Linked DNA regions of Homo sapiens. The protein of the gene in region 1 interacts with the protein of each later gene in a pairwise test. Each region holds a gene or a part of one and is shown in the gene's direction. Other genes may lie near its edges. The genes, in order: UBE2V2, ZNRF1, DZIP3, MOB4 and RNF144A.

Region 1 (3,519 bases):
GACAGGCACCTGTAGTCCTGGCTACTGGGGAGACTGAAGCAGTAGAATGGCATGAACCCGGGAGGCGGAGCTTGCAGTGAGCTGAGATTGTGCCACTGCACTCCAGCCCGAGTGACAGAGCGAGACTCCATCTCCAAAAAAAAAAAAAAAAAAAAATAAGGCTTGTCAAGAGTAGCTTGAGGCTGGGTGCAGTGGCTTCCACCTGTAGTCCCAGCACTTTGGGAGGTCGAGGTGGGTGGATTACTAGAGCCTAGGAGTTCAAGACCAGCCTGGGCAATACAAGAAAATCCCATCTCTACAAAAAATGCAAAAATTAGCTGGGTGTGGTGATGTGCACCTGCAGTCCCAGCTACTTGGGAGGCTGAGGTAGAGTATGGGTTGAGCCTGGGAGGTTGAGGCTGCAGTGAGCTGTGATCGTGTCACTGCACTCCTGCCTGGGCGACAGAGCAAGACACTGTGTCAAAAAAAAAATTAATTTGAACAATGCTTGCTAATGTTTTGAAGTACATTATCTGTACATTGTGGAATGGTTAAATCTAGCTAATTACCAAATACATTATCTCACATAGTTATCATTTTTGTGGTGAGAATACTTAATAGCTACTGAGTATTTTTCAAGAATACAGTATGTTGTTAACTAATCACCATGCTATACAGTAGTGCTCTTAAACTTGTTCCTCCTGACTGTAATTACGTATCCTTTGTCTAACATCTTCCCAATCCCCACCCCCGTAACCCCAACCATCCTAACCTCTGGTAACCACCATCTCCTGTCTACTTCTGTGAGATCAATTTTGACTCCATATATGAGTGAGATAATATGTATTTGTCTTTCTGTGCCTGTGTTATTTCAGTTAACATAATGTTCTCCAGGTTCATCCATGTTGTTGGAAATGAGAGAATTTCCTTCTTTTTTATGATTGGAACAGTGTCCCACTGTATACGTATACCACATGTTCTTTATCCATTTGTCTGTGTGGTTTTTTTTTTTTTTTTTTTTGAGACGGAGTCTCACTCTGTCACCCAGGCTGGAGTGCAGTGGCGCGTTCTCAGCTCACTGCAACCTCCACCTCCTGGGTTCAAGCAATTCTCCTGCCTCAGGCTCCCTAGTAGCTGGGATTACTGGCACCCGCCGCCAAGCCCGGCTAATTTTTGTATTTTAGTAGAGATGGGGTTTCACCATATTGGCCAGGTTGGTCTCAAACTCCTGACCTCAAGCAATCCATCTGCCTCGGCCTCCCAAAGTATGGGGATTACAGGCGTGAGCCACCGCGCTCAGCCTATCCATTTGTTGGTTGATGGATACTTAGGTTGATTCTATATCTTGCATATTTTGAGTAGTGCTGCAATAAAATGGGAGTGCAGGCCTCTCTTTGACATACTGATTTTATTTTCTTTGGCTATATATGCAGTAGCAGGATTACTGGATCATACGGTAGCTCTGTTTTTAGGTTTTTGAGGAACTCCATACTCTTCTTTCTCCATATGGTTGTACTAATTCACATTCCCACCAACAGCATGCTTAGATTATCCTTTATCACCACATACTCACCAACACTTGTTATCTGTCATCTTTTTTTTTTTGAGACGGAGTTTGGCTCTTGTTGCCCAGGCTGGAGTGCAATGGCATGATCTCGGCTCATTGCAACCTCCACCTCCTGGGTTCAAGCAATTCTCCTGCCTCAGCCTCCCGAGTAGCTGGGATTACAGCCACGCACCACCATGCCTGGCTAATTTTGTATTTTTATTAGAGACGGGGTTTCTCCATGTTGGTGAGGCTGCTCTCGAACTCCCAACCTCAGGTGATCTTCCCACCTTGGCCTCCCAAGGTACTGGGATTACAGGCGTGAGCCGCCGTGCCCAGCCTTTTTTTTTTTTTTTTTTTAATTGAGACAGAGTCTCGCTCTGTCGCCTAGGCTGGAGTGCAGTGGCGAGATGTCAGTTGACTGCAACCTCCACCTCCAGGTTCAAGCGATTCTCCTGTCTTAGCCTCCCGAGTAGCTGGGATTACAGGCACCCGCCACCATGCCTGGCTAATTTTCATATTGTTAGTAGAGACATGATTTCACCATGTTGGCCAGGCTAGGCTGGTCTCAAACGCCCGACCTCAGGTGATCCACCTGCCTTGGCCTCCCAAAGTGCTGGGATTACAGGCGTGAGCCACTGCGCTTGGCCTCATCTTTCATCCTTTTGATTATAGCCATTTTAATGGGAGTGAGGTGATACCTCATGTGGGTTTTTTTTTGCATTTCTTTGATGATTAGTGATGTTGAGAATTTTTTTCATATACCTCTTGGCCATTTGTATGTCTTTTGAGAAATGTCTATTCAGATCTTTTACCCATTTTTACATGAGGTTATTTTCTTGGTATTGAATGGAGTTCCTTATATATTTTGGTTATTAACCCCTTATCAGATATATAGTTTACGAGTATAGTGAACCATTCTGTATGTTCTCTCTCTCTTTTTTTTTTTTTTGGTGGAGTTTCGCTCTTGTTGCCCAGGCTGGAGTGCAATGGCACGATCTCAGCTCACTGCAAGCTCTGCCTCCTGGGTTCAAGGGATTCTCCTGCTTCAGCCTCCTAAGTAGCTGGGATTACAGGCATGTGCCACCATGCACTGCTAATTTTGTATTTTTAGTAGAGACGGGATTTCTCCATGTTGGTCAGGCTGGTAATAAACTCCCGACCTCAGGTGGTCTGCCTGCCTCAGCCTCCCAAAGTGCTAGGATTACAGGCGAGAGCCACCGCGCCTGCCAGTTCTCTCTTTATTGTTTCCTTTGCAGTGCAGGAGATTTTTAGTTTTATGTGATCCAAATTGTCTGTTTTTGCTTTTGTTGAGTGTGCTTTTGAGGTCATATCCTCCAAAAATCATTGCCCAGACCAATGCCATTGACTTTTCTTCCTGTTTTCTAGTAGTTTCATAGATTGCCTTTTTTTTTTTTTTTTTCCTGAGACAGTCTCAACCTGTCACCCAGGCTGGAGTGCAGTGGCATAGTCACGGCTCGCTGCAGCCTCAACTTCCCAGGCTCTCACCTCAGCCTCCCGAGTAGCTGGGACTACAGGTGCACGCCACCATACCTGGCTAATGTTTTGTATTTTTAGTAGAGATGGGGTTTCGCCATGTTGGCCAGGCTGGTCTCGAACTCCTGACCTCAGGTGATCCACACGCCTCGGCCTCCCAAAGTGCTGGGATTACAGGTGTGAGCCACCATGCCCAGCTGCACAATGCCCAATTTTGCCACTTCTGTTCAACATAATACTGGAAGTCCTAGAAAGAGCAATAAGACAAGAGAAAGAAATACAAGGCATCTTAATTGGAAAAGAAGTTAAACTGTTCCTGTTTGCAGAAGACATATGATGTCAGTGTTTATTGTTATAAAAACTTCTGTCTTAAAACTGCTTTTGCTGTATTCCATAGGCTTTGTATGCTGTGTGTTTCAGTTTTCATTTTTTTCAATAAACTTCCTAATTTGTTTTTTAATATCTTCATTGACCTATTGGTTGTTCAAGAGCATGTG
Region 2 (3,519 bases), on another chromosome or scaffold:
ACATATGTGGTATTCACCCCAAGCTTATTGGGCACAGAAATTTGAGTATAGTAGTTACTCCCTATCCAAAGGGGATTCGTTCCAATACCCACAGTGGATGCCTGAAACCGTGGATAGTACCTCACCTGAACCCTATATCTACTATGTCTTTTCCTGTATATACATACCTTTGATAAAGTTTTATTTATAAATTAGGCACAATAAAAGCTCGACAGCAGTAACTAATAATAGAACAATTATAACAATATACTGTGATAAAAGTTATGTGAATGTGTTCTCTCTCTCTCTCTCCCTGTCTCGAAAGTACAGTCATGCATTGCTTAATGACAGGGATACTTTCTGAGAAATGGGTCATTAAGGGATTTTGTCACTGGGCAAACATCATAGGGTGTACATACACGGACCTAGGTGGTATAGCCTGCTACATACCTAGATTATATGTTGCTCCTAGTGCTCCTAGGCTACAAACCTGTGCAACATGTGACTGTATTGAACACTGTTGGCAATTGTAATACAGTTGTAAGTATTTGTGTGTCTAAACATAGAAAAGGTACAGGATATAGTCTTACGGGACCACCATCATGTATGCAGTTGCTTGTTGACCCATGCATGTAGGGTGGTGCGTCATGGTATCTTAATATTTTAGACCTCCATTGACCACGGGTAACTGAAACTATGGAAAGTGAAGCCTTGGACAAGGGGTACTGCTGTATACCCAATTATAAAACTAAGCTTCAATTTTGACAGCTTCAAAATTAGAAAAACTTCATAGGGAAGTGGTGGTAACTTAAATGGGATATTGATTCTGCTCCTACTCATCCTTAGGTAGGGGTGTTTTTAATGACAGTGGATCACTAAGGTTGTGGTTCTAGAATCTTGAAGTTAGCCCAAAACCTAAATCTTAACCTCAGTCAGTTTGTTTGTTTGTTTGTTTGTTTATTGAGACAGAGTCTCACTCTGTCACCCAGGCTGGAGTGCAGTGGCATGATCTGAGCTCACTGCAACGTCCACTTCCCGGGTTCAAGTGATTGGCCTGCCCCAGCCTCCCAAGTAGCTGGGATTACAGGCATGCACCACCACGCCTGACTAGTTTTTGTATTTTTAGTAGAGACAGGGTTTCACCATGTTGGCCAGGCTGGTCTCGAACTCCTGACCTCGGGTGATCCACCTGCCTTGGCCTCCCAGAGTGCTGGCATTACAGGCATGAGCTACCGTGCCTGGCCACCTCAGTCTTTTAGGATGATGGGTGAATATAAATTTCAGTCTGTTTCTTTTCCAAGCTTTCTCATGGCCTAGTCTGAATCAGATGGTTCATAGTAATTACCATGGGTTCAGTCTTGAGTGTGAGAAGGGGATTCTTAGAGACCCAGCAGTTTTCACTTCTGAATCTTAGGTTCTCACTAGAACACAGGTTTATCCTTGAATCCAGCAGTTGGGTTTCTGTCCTTTATGTGCTGTATGGATGAAGGATGAGTTGTGGGTATGAGTGAATAACCTGAAGACCAGCCCTCAAGTGTGAAGTGTGAAGCAAATAACCAAGTTTAATCTTTTTTTTTTTTTTTTTTTAAGACAGGGTCTCGCTTTGTTCAGGCTGGAGTGCAGTGGCACGATCATGGCTCACTGCAGCCTCAGCCTGTAGGGCTCAAGCGATCCTCCTTCCTCAGCCTCCTGAGTAGCTGGGACTACAGGCGGATGCCGCTACGCCTGGCTAATTTTTAATTTTGTGTAGATGGGGTCTCCATTTGTTGCCCAGGCTGGTCTTAAACTCCTGGGCTCAAGCGATCCTCCTGCCTCAGCCTCCTAAAGTGCTGGGATTACAGGTGTCAGCGACGATGCCAGACCCCAAATTTAATCCTAAAGCAGCAGCTGAAATAGTTTCTAGACTGATGAGACTGTTTACCTTGAGACCTCCCTAGAGTCGTTAGTCTTGAACACACAGCTTTCCTCTGTTGGGAGAAAGGAGGAAGGAATAATTCACTGGATCCCTGTGAATTCCAACTTAGGGGAGGCATGATAAGAATTTATAGTGACCTCTTGGATCTGTAACAAGAAAGAGGCAGATAAAAACAAGAGCTCTCCTGATTTCTGTGAATGGTTCAGAAGGGTTCTTAAAGGTGCTCAGTATTCTCTAGGGAGGTAGTTAACGATGCAGATGACTGGACCCCACTCACAGAATTCAGTAGAGCTGGAGACCCAAGAATCTAAGTTTGTAACAAATGAACCTGAAAACAAGAAGACCTTCTACATCTGAAACTAAACTCCACCAAGCATTTAGTTTTTCTCTCCCCAAACAGAGAAATAAACTTTGAATCCTTTTTTGGTGTATTCATTAGCTTTCTTTTTATTTGTTTTTTCTTCTTATTTTTCTTTAGAGAAAGGTTTTTCTTCTGTTGCCCGGGCTGGAGTGCAATAGCAAGATCACGCTCACTGCAGCCTGGAACTCCTGGTCTCAAGCAATTCTCAAGCCTTAGCCTCTGGAGTATCTGGGACTACAGATGCTATGCTACCATGACCAGATAATTTTTTTACTTTTTTTTTCTTTTTTCGGTAGAGAAGGGGTCTCACCATGTTGCCCAGGCTGGTCTTGAACTCCTGGCCTCAAGTGAGCCTTCCACCTCAGCTTCCCAAAATACTGGGATTATAAGTGTGAAGCCACTGTGCCTGGCCTTTATTTTCAGTATTTCTAGTCAGATATTTGCTAAGCAATCTCTACAGCTCGCAGAAGGTAGGTTCAACCAGGAACAACATTGTTGGCTATTTGATGGTTTTCTTTTACATGGGACTAAGCATTATTGCCTACATATAGGGCCAAGCCAATCTGCCTTGGTCTGAGAATTGAAGTTGCTCTGAACAGAAGGTAATGGTGTCAGTGTCGCCTTTCCTTCTGCACTTGTCTTCCTCCTGACTTTTCTTCTTTGGCTCTGGTGCTACAGAAGGGCTTCCTGAGTTACCCTCTTTCCTACATCTTCAGCCAGGCAGCTAGACAAGTCAAGAGCTTAGGATGAATCTAGGCTTTAAAGAGGTTGGAAGACCTGTTTTTCCTTTTCTCTGACTGACCCAAAAGTATAAGACTTTTTTTTCTTTGTGTGTGATGATCTGTTGAACAAAAACGTTCATTTATTCCATTGATAGCCTCTGGTATACCAGGACCTATGGTAGGTGCTGAGAATATATATATTTATTATAGAGCAATTAACTTATTCTTTCCAAGAATCTTTGCTTCCTCACTCCTTAAGAGTCTGAATATTTTAGCTTCTGGGAGATTTTACCTTTTCATCAGCTCCTCTGTTGAATAAACAAATAAATGTAGGTGTTTGTCCATAAGGCTGCTGCAAGGATATACTTCTCTTCACTCATTTTTTTCCAAAGCCCTATTTCTGGGTTGGGGCAGGTGATCTTTTCTTTGTGATTCCAGCTAAGTACCTACCAAGAAATTCCTCGTATGTCTCAGTATGAGGGGTCCTCTGTCCTCTCAGTGAGAATATCAAAAGAAAAACTGATTTTCAGACTCTTCATGTG
Region 3 (3,519 bases), on another chromosome or scaffold:
TTGGAGCTAAACATTAAGTCAAAATTTCATCAAGTATTACCTCCAATATAAAATATTTTCTATGGATAACTTTGGGTTGTTCTGTGAAATTTCTGAGTATCAATATTGCCCACCAACATAGATAACACTTCCTGAGAATCTCCTTTGCATAGTTCTATGTGATTACAGTTGGGAGGGAACCTTAATGATTACCTTATCCAACCCTCTCATTTTATAGATTAGGAAATTGGTTTCCAAGGTTATTCAGCTACGTAGAGAGAAATGTGACTAGAAGCTATTTCTTTTCTGTCTTTGTCAATGCTGTTTTCAATATATCTCATTGCCCTTTGTTTTTCCAATATTCATATGTTTCATTTTCTGACATACATTGTTTCTAATGTGCTTTGTATCTTGAGTTCAAATGAGTGTTCCCCCCGCCATATTGCTGTATGAATTTAGATGATTGCCTAAATAAATATATAAATATGTGGGGGGGGGTGTTGTTTATTATTGTTTATATTTTCTATTTTAGATGCAGCAGTTCTTAGGAAGACCTCTTGTGAAAGAATCTTTCTTTAGACCCATACTTACTGTTCCTCAAATGCCTGCAGTTTGCCCGGGAGTCGTCTCTGCAACTGGCCAACCTAGAGCCCCCCTGGTAAAAGCTTTCTTGGTGGAATAGATGTTAATTAGTTTTTTTATTACTCTAGTGGGCTTCCTGAATGAGTATCTTCATTTTGTTCATTCATTTGATATGATAATGATGGGGGTGGTGGTGATAATTGAATGAATACTTCCTGTGAAGCACTGTGCTCAGGGTGTTACATATATTATTTAACTGATACTAGCTTCGTTTTGGGATACAAAGATAAATATGTTTTTATACTAGAGAATCCTTAAAATTATAGTATTGCTTCTGAAATAGGCAACAATGCAGGGTAAATTGACATTTTTAATAGATTTTTTTGGCATGGTTGTTGGGAAGATTGAAAAGCAAAGAAGCCAAGTCACAACAAACTATATTATGGCACAAAGCTAAAGAAAAATTTTATTTCCACACACGTACACACACATAGTAGGACAGTATTTCAAGTGTATCTATAAACAGACTATAAATAGCATCACCTTGAAACATAAACTGTAAAGTTATAAATCTTCCCAGCTACAAATAGCCAGATAAACTTTATCCAAACCTGAAGAAGGAACATATAAATTTGAAATTACCAGAATTATCAGTTGTAATCTTGGTGAAGGTTTTTTATTAAAGGAAAATCTTCCAAAAGAATGATGTTAGATGTAATTAATGAAAATTCTCTAATCTTGATTTTCCTATAAGTATAATTAGGTGCAATTAATTGTTTCTTTTCTTTTCTGCTCCCCATATATTGCTAACAGTTTCCTTTTGAAATACATGGTCAGGTGGACTCTGCTTATTATTGTCGAGGCTACCTGTCTATAAACAAATCTGTATATAGTCCTTAATATGTTAAATAAGTAACACATCTTTTTACTACCATGATATTACAGTGTTAACTCTTGCAATTTGCTTGCCCACCATTCTATAAGAAACTATGATAAAATTTTATTAAAAACATTAAAATACCTTAATCTCCTAATAAGATTACTTTCTGATTCCTGGGGTAAAGCTTGACATAGAAGCAAATTCAGATTTCTGGGAAATATTCTGCTTCCCCTCACTTCTTAGGCTCTGTACAAATTATTACAGTGACTGTTAGTAGTTGCTAGTTTTTCATGAATAATAACCTAATATTTGAAAATAACCCATTAGAGCCTTACATAAAAGGTGCAAGTGGTCATAATTATCTTAGTAATCAGATGAGCACTCCAAAAATACTCTGTTATTATATTATTTAATTAGAATCTTAAGAAGGAACTACCATAAAATATGGAGAAAAGTGATGGTTTCATGGCTGCATGTCACTACAACTTCTGCACCACTTTTGTCTACAACATTGATGAGACATTGGGCAGAGCAGTTCTAGTAGTATTCCCATCTTTATTTGGTTGTTTGAAAAATGTAACTTTACTTTCTCGTTATAAAGGTATATATGCTAATCACAAAATGCGAATAATATAGAAATGTAAGCACATTAGAAAACAAAGTTACTGTGCAATTGATCCCTAAGAAATAATCACTTCTTACGCATTGTAATTTACAGACCTTTCTCCGTGTATACATATGCATTTAAAATTTTTTAATGTAAAAGGAAGTCGTATCATAAATACTGTGCCACAGACTTTTTAAAAAATCATATTTCATGCATATCTCTTATGCCCAGACATACAGTTCTATTTTTAAAAACTTGATTAGATGTGCCATAATTTATTCATTTCTCTATAGATGTAAGGTTTTTTCAGTTTTCACTGTTAAAAGAGAAACAGCAGTAAACAGCCTTCATGTTTTGCTGTACATGTATGTAATTACTGAAGCAAGCATGTCCTATTTTAAAAATAAGTTTAAATATTTATAAACAGTTAGAAATATTGTTTGTATTAGTTAAGAGAAAAACCCTAAAAGGGATTGTGTATGCCAGTATTCTTCTTCATTCTACCCTTTTCTTTGTCCTATTTTTAAAATAAGTTTAAAATAGTTACAAACAATTAGAAATATTAAGAGAAAAACTGTAAAAATTGAATGTGTATGCCAGTACGCTTCTTCATTGTACCCATTTTCTGAGGTATAGGAATGTCACTTCTTAATAATTAAACCTGCTGGGCTATAGCTCTCTGCCTCTTACAGATGACTGGCATAGCCTGGGCTCTGCCAGCGCCTGTGGGAGACGCTGTGCCTCCCAGTGCAGGTCTGCGGAGTGATCCCTCCATCATGAATTGGGAGAGAATTACAGACAGGCTGAAAACTGCCTTTCCACAGCAAACCAGGTACCTTAGTTTTTATTTATTGGTGGGTACAGATCATATTCTCCAGTTTTCATAGCCATAATTGTGGCAATGAAACATTTCAGAGAAACATAACAAACACAAAAAAAGTACAGATGTTTCCTTACCTTGACCTTGGTAAGGAAAAAGAAATTTACCAAGAAGAGACAGTGTTCAATGGTGAACCTCTTCATTAAAAAGTTACTTGTCTTAAATCATGAGAGAATAACTTTAAATTTAGGTATGCTCATTTACTAAAAGTACAACTAGATGTAAACTTACCCAATTTTAATGGCACTAACTGCCATTATTATCTTAACCTATCTCCAAAGTGAATTTTAAGTTGATTGTATGCTATATAAGCCCAAACATCTTTAGGATTTAATTTCCTAATTTCCTTAATTTTGAGGGTCCTTATAGTTTCTTTGTTGGAGAACACACTAAAAATGCAAGAAATCATAACTTTACTGTGCTTTTCACAGTCTACCTTTAGTAGAAAGATATTTAATTATATTCCTACACAAATGAAGTTTCTTTTATCTCAACTCATATCTAAGGAAATAATTCTACTTTTCACAAGTATTTTTATTTCAATACAAACATTTAATATATATACTGGCACACTTCATTATTAAATTATAA
Region 4 (3,519 bases), on another chromosome or scaffold:
CACTACACTCCAGCCTGGGCGACAGAGTGAGACTCTATCTCAAAAACAAAAAAAAATTTCTATCCATAGAAGGTGTAGTGGGAACAGGAAAGACAAAAATGAATAGACAGATTGCTAATATATACAAATTACAAATGTGGCAGGAAATTGGATGGAGTTCTGTGAGGATTCGAATAATCAGGGAGTGCTTGAGTGTGTTGGGGGAACGAGAGATTTGGACAGAATTGTGATGTGGAATTTGAGGTGGCCTTTGGAGAAGGTATACAATTTAGCTGTATCTCCTCAAGGAGAGAGAGAATCAAAACTTTGAAACATTAGGATGAGATAAAAAAAATCAGGGAGAGTGGTTTCAATAGTAATTAAAGAGTCATTAAAAAGTGTTTGAGGCTGGGTACGGTGGCTCATGCCTGTAATCCCAGCACTTCGGGAGGCCGAGGCGGGTGGATCAGCTGAGGTCAGGAGTTTGAGACCAGCCTTACTAACATGGCGAAACCCTGTCTCTACAAAAAATACAAAAATTAGCCGGGCGTGATGGCAGGTGCTTGTATTCCCAGCTACTCGGGAGGCTGAGGCAGGAGAATCGCTTGAACCCGGCAGGCGGAGGTTGCAGTGAGCCAAGACTGAGCCATTGCACTCCAGCCTGGGCGACAGGAGCAAAACTCCTCAAAAAAAAAAAAAAAAAAAAAAAAGTATTTGATCCCTTTCCCTGTCATCATGGTGTGTGCGTGTGACTCAGTTCTTTGCCATGCCTTCCCACAAGACTTTAAGACTTTTAGAATCAAGTGATTCCTGGCCAAGAAACAAAAGCAAAATCGTCCCATTCCCCAGTGGATTCAGATGAAAACTGAGTAATAAAATCAGGTACAACTCTAAGAGGAGACATTGGAAAAGAACCAAGCTGGGTCTAGAAGGAATTTTACATGAGATGGCACACATACTTAATATTGCATCAAGGTCACTATCATGTCACCATATCAAGCTGAAAATGTCACCATCATCTGGACAGTTGTACATGCTGTATTGGAACAATGGTTTTTCTTTTGGTTTCTATGCTCTGCAGTAGGCTGGTTCAGTACTAAATATGTGAGACCTTTTGTTTGGAAAAAAAAGTTTTTGAGTAAGCAAGTGATATTCAAGAAAGATTGTCTGAAGTAGGCAAAATTGATTGGCTCAAGAAGGCCTTATAGTTAGTAAGTTTTTGTAACCACCCTTTTAATCTGTTCTAACGTATTTAGACTTCAGAATATCAAAAAGATTGCATAAAGCATTACAGAGATCTGAAATTTAAATTTTTATGTTATTACATTTTAAAAATTGAAAGTGACCCTCCCTTGCCTTTTTTTTTAAACTTAGTTTTTTCTGTTAGTCATTTAAAACAACTTTTATTGGATCTAATGAACATACCATACAAATCCCTATACAGTTAGAGTGATTATATTCACAGGGTTGCACAGCCATCACTACAGTCTAATTTTAAAGCTTTTTTGTTGTTGTTTTGTTTTTGAGATGGAGTCTCACTGTGTTGCCCAGGCTGGAGTGCAGTGGCACGATCTTGGTTCACTGCAACCTCCGCCTCCCGGGTCCAAGCGATTCTCTTGCCTCAGCCTCCAGAGTAGCTGGGACTACAGGTGTGTGCCACCACGCCTGGCTAATTTTTTTGTATTTTTAGTAGAGATTGGGTTTCACTATATTAGCCAGGATGGTCTCGATTTTCTGACCTTGTGATCTGCCCACCTCGGCCTCCCAAAGTGCTGGGATTACAGGCATGAGCCCCGACGCCCGGCCTTTTAGAACATATTTATCCTTCCTGAAAGGAAACCTCACCCTCATTAGCAGCCATCTTCAGTCTCTTCTGCCTTCCTCTCTGCCCTCAAGCCCTACACCAGTACAAATCTATTTCCTGTCTCAATAGATTTTCTTACTCTAGACACTTCATATAAACCAAATCACAATATGTACCATAGTTATATTTACATTGCCTATGGTGAAATCCTGTATCTACAAAATATGGAAAAGTTAGCCCGGCGTGATGGCGTGTGCCTGTAGTCCCAGCTCCTCAGGAGGCTGAGGTGGGAGGATTGCTTGAGCCCAGGAGGTGGATATTGCAGTGATCTGAGATTGTGCCACTGTACTCCAGCCTGGGTGATGCAGTGAGACCCTGTTTCAAAAAAAAAAAAAAAAAAAAGAAATTATGGTTTGCAATTTTGATCCAAGTTCCAGTCCTGACAAATACAATATCTGCATTTATGTAGTAGATTCTATCCAAATGAAGTTGAATTGAAGGATAAATAAGTAAGGGTAACCTACTTTTTTTCTTAGTTACTGATTATGATTCTATACTTGGTTTCCTATTTAGTGTATAACCCAAGTTGAACCACAAGAGCAGTTATGTATTAACAAATTATATGTACTTAACATAAGATTTACCAGGTGATATAATTTAATTAACCATAAGAACTTCTTTGTTTTTAGTATATTCAACAGAACATAAGAGCAGATTGCTCCAATATTGACAAAATTCTTGAACCACCTGAAGGCCAAGATGAAGGTGTGTGGAAGTATGAACATTTAAGGTAGGACCTTACATCAAAATACTAATAGTACCTCTCACAAAACTAGCTTTCATATTAATGATAATTATGAATTGTAAAATTTACTATGTAACTGCAGACTAAGAAGCCAAATTTTAAAGCTTTGGCATTTTCAGTGTCACAAGGTTCTCAGCTTTCTTCACTGGTTGTTTCCAGGTCAAATTATGCTGCAGAGTCACTCATTTTGAAAGGTGGTTTATTTCAGAGTTGATAATTTGGACCTGCCTCTGCACCTCTCTTCTTTTCTTTTCTTTTTTTTTTTTTTTTTTGAGATGGGGTCTCACTCTCTTGCCCACGTTGGAGTGCAGTGGTGTAATCACTGCTTACTGTGCCTCTACCTCTTAGGCTCAAGTGATCCTCCCACTTCAGCTTCCAGAGTAGCTGGGACTACAGGTGTGTGCCAGCATGCCTCACTAATTTTTTAATTTTTTGTAGAGACAGGATCTGATTGTGTTGCCCAGGCTAGTCTCAAACTCCTGGATTCAAGCAATTTTCCTACCTTGTCCTCCCAAAGTATTGAGCCACCCTTTCTACATTTATTCATTTGGGCCTTATTATCCCCGCCTTTTTTTTGAAACAGGGTCTTGATCTGTTGCCTAGGCTGGAATGCAGTGGTGCAATCTTGGCGCATTGCAGCCTCTGTCTCCCATGCTGAAGCAATCCTCCCACCTCAGCCTCCTGAGTAGCTGGGACTACTAGTGCATGCCTCTAAGCCTGGCTAGTTTTTTGTATTTTTTGTAGAGACAAGGTTTCACCATGTTGCCTAGGCTGGTCTCAAACTCCGGGGCTTAAGCAATCCACCCACCTTGGCCTCCCACAGTGCTGGGATTACCACCATGCCAGCCTGGGTTTTATTCTTATTTCATGATTTTCCTTAATTGTATCTCTTAACCGCTAATATAGTATTTCCGTTTCCCCATTTTTGCAT
Region 5 (3,519 bases), on another chromosome or scaffold:
AATAAACTTCTGAAATTAAACTGACATTCTGGATTCTCTGAACAGCTCACAGTTTGAAGACCTTGTCTAGTGATCTATTTGGTAGCAGGAAGAATTTATGGAACACAATTTGTTTATAAGGATTGAGGCTCCTGGGGGAGGCTTAAAGTTGATGGCTCTCTTGAGGTATTATATTTCAGCCAGCTTAAGGCTGAGTTTGAGGGCTAAACTCTTGGACTGGCCCAGAAGTTAAAAGATGCAGAGTCATGGAGGGAAGTCGTGAGGGTAGGCATAGCAGAAATTACAGTAACCCCCGTCCTAACAACAGTCCGATGGTAGGTGTCCTGTCTGCGCTTACTCACCACTGGACACAGACCTAGATAGTAGGTGGTGAATGAATAATCAAGTCCCTTATCCCAGTAAGTGTCACAACAACTCTGCAAAGCTAATTTGTCATTATCTAATAAACGGATCCCCAGAGAGGCTAACTGACTTGCCCTGATTTCTAAATATAGTGGGTGCTTTGGGACCACATCCCATGACCCTTCATCGTGAGCCCTCCACTGGGCCCTGAATAGTCCTTCTGGCTGGAGCAGGCCTGATGCAGACCCAGGGGTCCTCTGGGAGAGCAGTGTGGCAGGTGCACACAGAGCAGAACATGATTCTCAGGATAATATTGCAAAGCATTAAGCCATGTGGAATGTCCAGGAGAGGTCTTTAGCTCTGCTCTCTGAAATACTCCGGGGTCATACAATGAAACTGTAAAGAGTCTGTGGACTCTCTTTGGCTTTGTTTTCATATCTATTCTGGGCCCCAGGCTTGTCTGGTAAAGAGCAGAGTGACAGATGTGTGCAGGCGACACTCCATATGCAGAACATCATTGTGTGGACCTTGCAGGCGGATTCTGAGTTTGGATTGCTGGCATCTGCTCTCCCTCTCCCTGCACTGATTCTCGGGTTCTTGACCTGAGCAGGGTCTCACCACTGAGACACAGCCCTGGAGGGTGGGCTTACATGAAAACATGGCCGGATGGGGAGTGGACGGCAGAGGAGACCAGAGGACAATATCCAGAGACTCCCAGTTTAGCTGCATGCAGAGACCTGTTGTTTGTATATTTTTGCTTTCTAAAAGAAATGCTAGAGATAGCTGGGCCCAGTGGCATGTACCTATAGTCTCAACTACTCAGGAGTTCAAGTCCAGCCTGGGCAACATATTGAGACCCCGTCTCTAAAAAAAAAAAAAAAAAAGAAAGAAAAAGAAAAAAATATGTAGCCCACTTAAAAAAAAACTCAAACAGCATTTTTCATGGCATTGACATTTGTTTTCAAGAGTGTGTTTATTAAAGTGTCGTATATCATTTGCTTTGGGGCAGTTTATAGCTTTAATATAATGCCATTTGGTACAAAAGTCAGTACGTAGGGCAATAAAATTGATTAATTTAGACTTCTGAGACTTTCAGGCTCTTCTGAGAATATTTTCCAGAGAGAATCTTGACAGAAACTGGCTGTTGTTTGCGTTACAAGAATATGAACTTTCTATGACATTGAATTTAATTTAAAAATGCAGCTGGGTACATTTTTCAACCTAATAATTTTAACTGTTATTTCTTTAGTACTTTGGCTTAGTCAGAAAATCTTTTTTCCTTTTGCATAAACATGAAGCCAACTTGGCTTCTGTTAAAAAAAAAAAATCTCTCAAGCCTCTCCCTTTAAAGCATTTTACTAACATTATGTTCAAAGTTTTTTTTTTTTTAAGTATTCAGACTTCATACTATAAAAGACCTGTCTAGATAAAACGTTAGAATGTCAGAGCTAAAATATAGTTATGGATTATAGCCAGCACCTTGAAAGAGTTTGGAGACAAGATCAGAAAGCAAATTTTGACTGTCTCTATGGCTCTAAAATCTAGTCAAGTAGAGGACGCCCTGGAAGAAAACTGAGACAGTTCAATGATTTTCTGAAAACATTGAGTTACCAGAAAGTTCTATGGTTAGGTCATGTTGCGCACACTGTCTGCACTTAGTCTTAGAATGTCTCCTCTGATATAACAGCCTTGGTTTTAGCGTCAATGTCTTCCCCTTCTGGAGCTCTGGGGCAAGCAGGAAGCCAGGGAAGGGGGCCAGGAAGCTGAGTTTTCATTCTGAACACCTCCTCACAACTGGCTCACTCCAGAGTCTGGGTAGGGACAGATTCTTGAGCGAGGGGGTGTGGATGCCTCTTGCTGCGTGGACCCCTCTCTCATGCTACACTCGACGCCCGTGGCCCTCTGAGACCCAGCGGTGCTGTGCTAAGGGCGTTGCTGTGCACCTGCCTCTATCTGGAGGCTCAGCCCTCCCAGAGACAGGACTGTGGGTCCTCATGCCTTCGTCCCATGCCAGCCCAGTGCCTGGCCAAGTGAATGCTGATGTCAGATGTCAACCGTGTATTGTTTTTTTTTTTGTTCTTTGTTTTTTTTTTTTAAAGTAAAGCTCAGAGAGATTAAATAATACGATGGGTTATCCACCTGTAATCAGGCCTGACTAGAGCCGACTCCTGAAAATGTTGCCATCTCACAGCAGGATCAAACCCACCATCCCAGCCCTGCACCAGGCACCAGCCCGCCGGGCAGGGTAGTAAGTGCAGGGATGAGAGGGGATGCTGGGTGCATCGTTCTCTGTCATGTACTTCTGAAAGGAAACTGTTTTAAAAGGAAAGCCACCTTTTTAAAAAGTTTTATGCATTTTTAAGCAGGGAGTTCTTAAGAGACCTGCTTCATTAATCTGCCATGAATACGCCTCTGGGAGAGAAGAGTTAACATTAGTTTCCTCTAGTGTGCCAAAAAGCATATCATTTGCTTTGTTTGAAAATATGTCTCATACACACACGTGTGTAGATTGGGGAGGATAATGCAGAATGTTAATAGACATCTACGCCTCAGCCTGGGGCCATGTTCACAGGGTGTGACATGCCCCGGCAGCACAGGAAGGACATTTGCAGTCTGCAGTCAGAGCGGCCGTTTGTCCCTGACCTTTTCGATAGGGAATCTCTCCATGTGAGGACAGGCAGTGCCGTGTCACAGCTATATGAGGACAAAACTAATAAGATTTAAATCGTTCCCATGGAAACCTTAGCCAGGTCTCCCCTGTGTGCTATCCTGGGGGGCCTTTTGTGATGGGGATGCTTAATAGCATCCCCCACTGTTGAGCCAGGAGGGTGGACAGGAGGTGGTGCATGACAAATCACGTGCATGAAGAGACCGAGACCCAGCTTTGGGATGTCTGCTCCTTGCTGATGTCAGAAGCTCCTACTGCACAGGAGAGGTGGGGACAGCAGTGAGACGGAAGGGTCCCTAGCAGGCAGCGCTGCCCTTCTGGATCTAGCCTCAGAGCTATATCGGGAGGAGAGCAAAGAGCGGGTGAGGATTTCTCTTCCCGCGCAGCGTGTTGTTTAGTGCACACAGCACTTGCACCCTCCCGCAGGGCTGGGCAGACATGGGCCTCCTATCTCATCAGGGACAAAGCTGGGCTCACCCCACAGCACTCACAGAGGGCAGGCAGAGAGT

What was found.
Region 2: the proteins of UBE2V2 (region 1) and ZNRF1 interact in a two-hybrid assay, tested with the Homo sapiens proteins (one large-scale study listed by BioGRID and IntAct).
Region 3: the proteins of UBE2V2 (region 1) and DZIP3 interact in a two-hybrid assay, tested with the Homo sapiens proteins (one large-scale study listed by BioGRID and IntAct).
Region 4: the proteins of UBE2V2 (region 1) and MOB4 interact in a two-hybrid assay, tested with the Homo sapiens proteins (one large-scale study listed by BioGRID and IntAct).
Region 5: the proteins of UBE2V2 (region 1) and RNF144A interact in a two-hybrid assay, tested with the Homo sapiens proteins (one large-scale study listed by BioGRID and IntAct).

Annotation. Positions count from the first base shown.
Region 1 is NC_000008.11:48,014,916-48,018,434, forward strand, and holds part of UBE2V2 (ubiquitin-conjugating enzyme E2 variant 2), read left to right. Parts: intron 1-3,519. UniProt on the Homo sapiens protein: Has no ubiquitin ligase activity on its own. The UBE2V2/UBE2N heterodimer catalyzes the synthesis of non-canonical poly-ubiquitin chains that are linked through 'Lys-63'. This type of poly-ubiquitination does not lead to protein degradation by the proteasome.
Region 2 is NC_000016.10:75,005,513-75,009,031, forward strand, and holds part of ZNRF1 (E3 ubiquitin-protein ligase ZNRF1), read left to right. Parts: exon of another isoform or gene 1-1,566; intron 1,567-3,519. UniProt on the Homo sapiens protein: E3 ubiquitin-protein ligase that plays a role in different processes including cell differentiation, receptor recycling or regulation of inflammation. Mediates the ubiquitination of AKT1 and GLUL, thereby playing a role in neuron cells differentiation.
Region 3 is NC_000003.12:108,683,705-108,687,223, forward strand, and holds part of DZIP3 (E3 ubiquitin-protein ligase DZIP3), read left to right. Parts: intron 1-511; coding exon 512-637; intron 638-2,723; coding exon of another isoform or gene 2,724-2,740; coding exon 2,741-2,880; intron 2,881-3,519. UniProt on the Homo sapiens protein: E3 Ubiquitin ligase proteins mediate ubiquitination and subsequent proteasomal degradation of target proteins.
Region 4 is NC_000002.12:197,533,058-197,536,576, forward strand, and holds part of MOB4 (MOB-like protein phocein), read left to right. Parts: intron 1-2,472; coding exon 2,473-2,573; intron 2,574-3,519. Other genes in the region: HSPE1-MOB4 protein, read left to right, coding at 2,473-2,573.
Region 5 is NC_000002.12:7,014,897-7,018,415, forward strand, and holds part of RNF144A (E3 ubiquitin-protein ligase RNF144A), read left to right. Parts: intron 1-3,519. UniProt on the Homo sapiens protein: E3 ubiquitin-protein ligase which accepts ubiquitin from E2 ubiquitin-conjugating enzymes UBE2L3 and UBE2L6 in the form of a thioester and then directly transfers the ubiquitin to targeted substrates.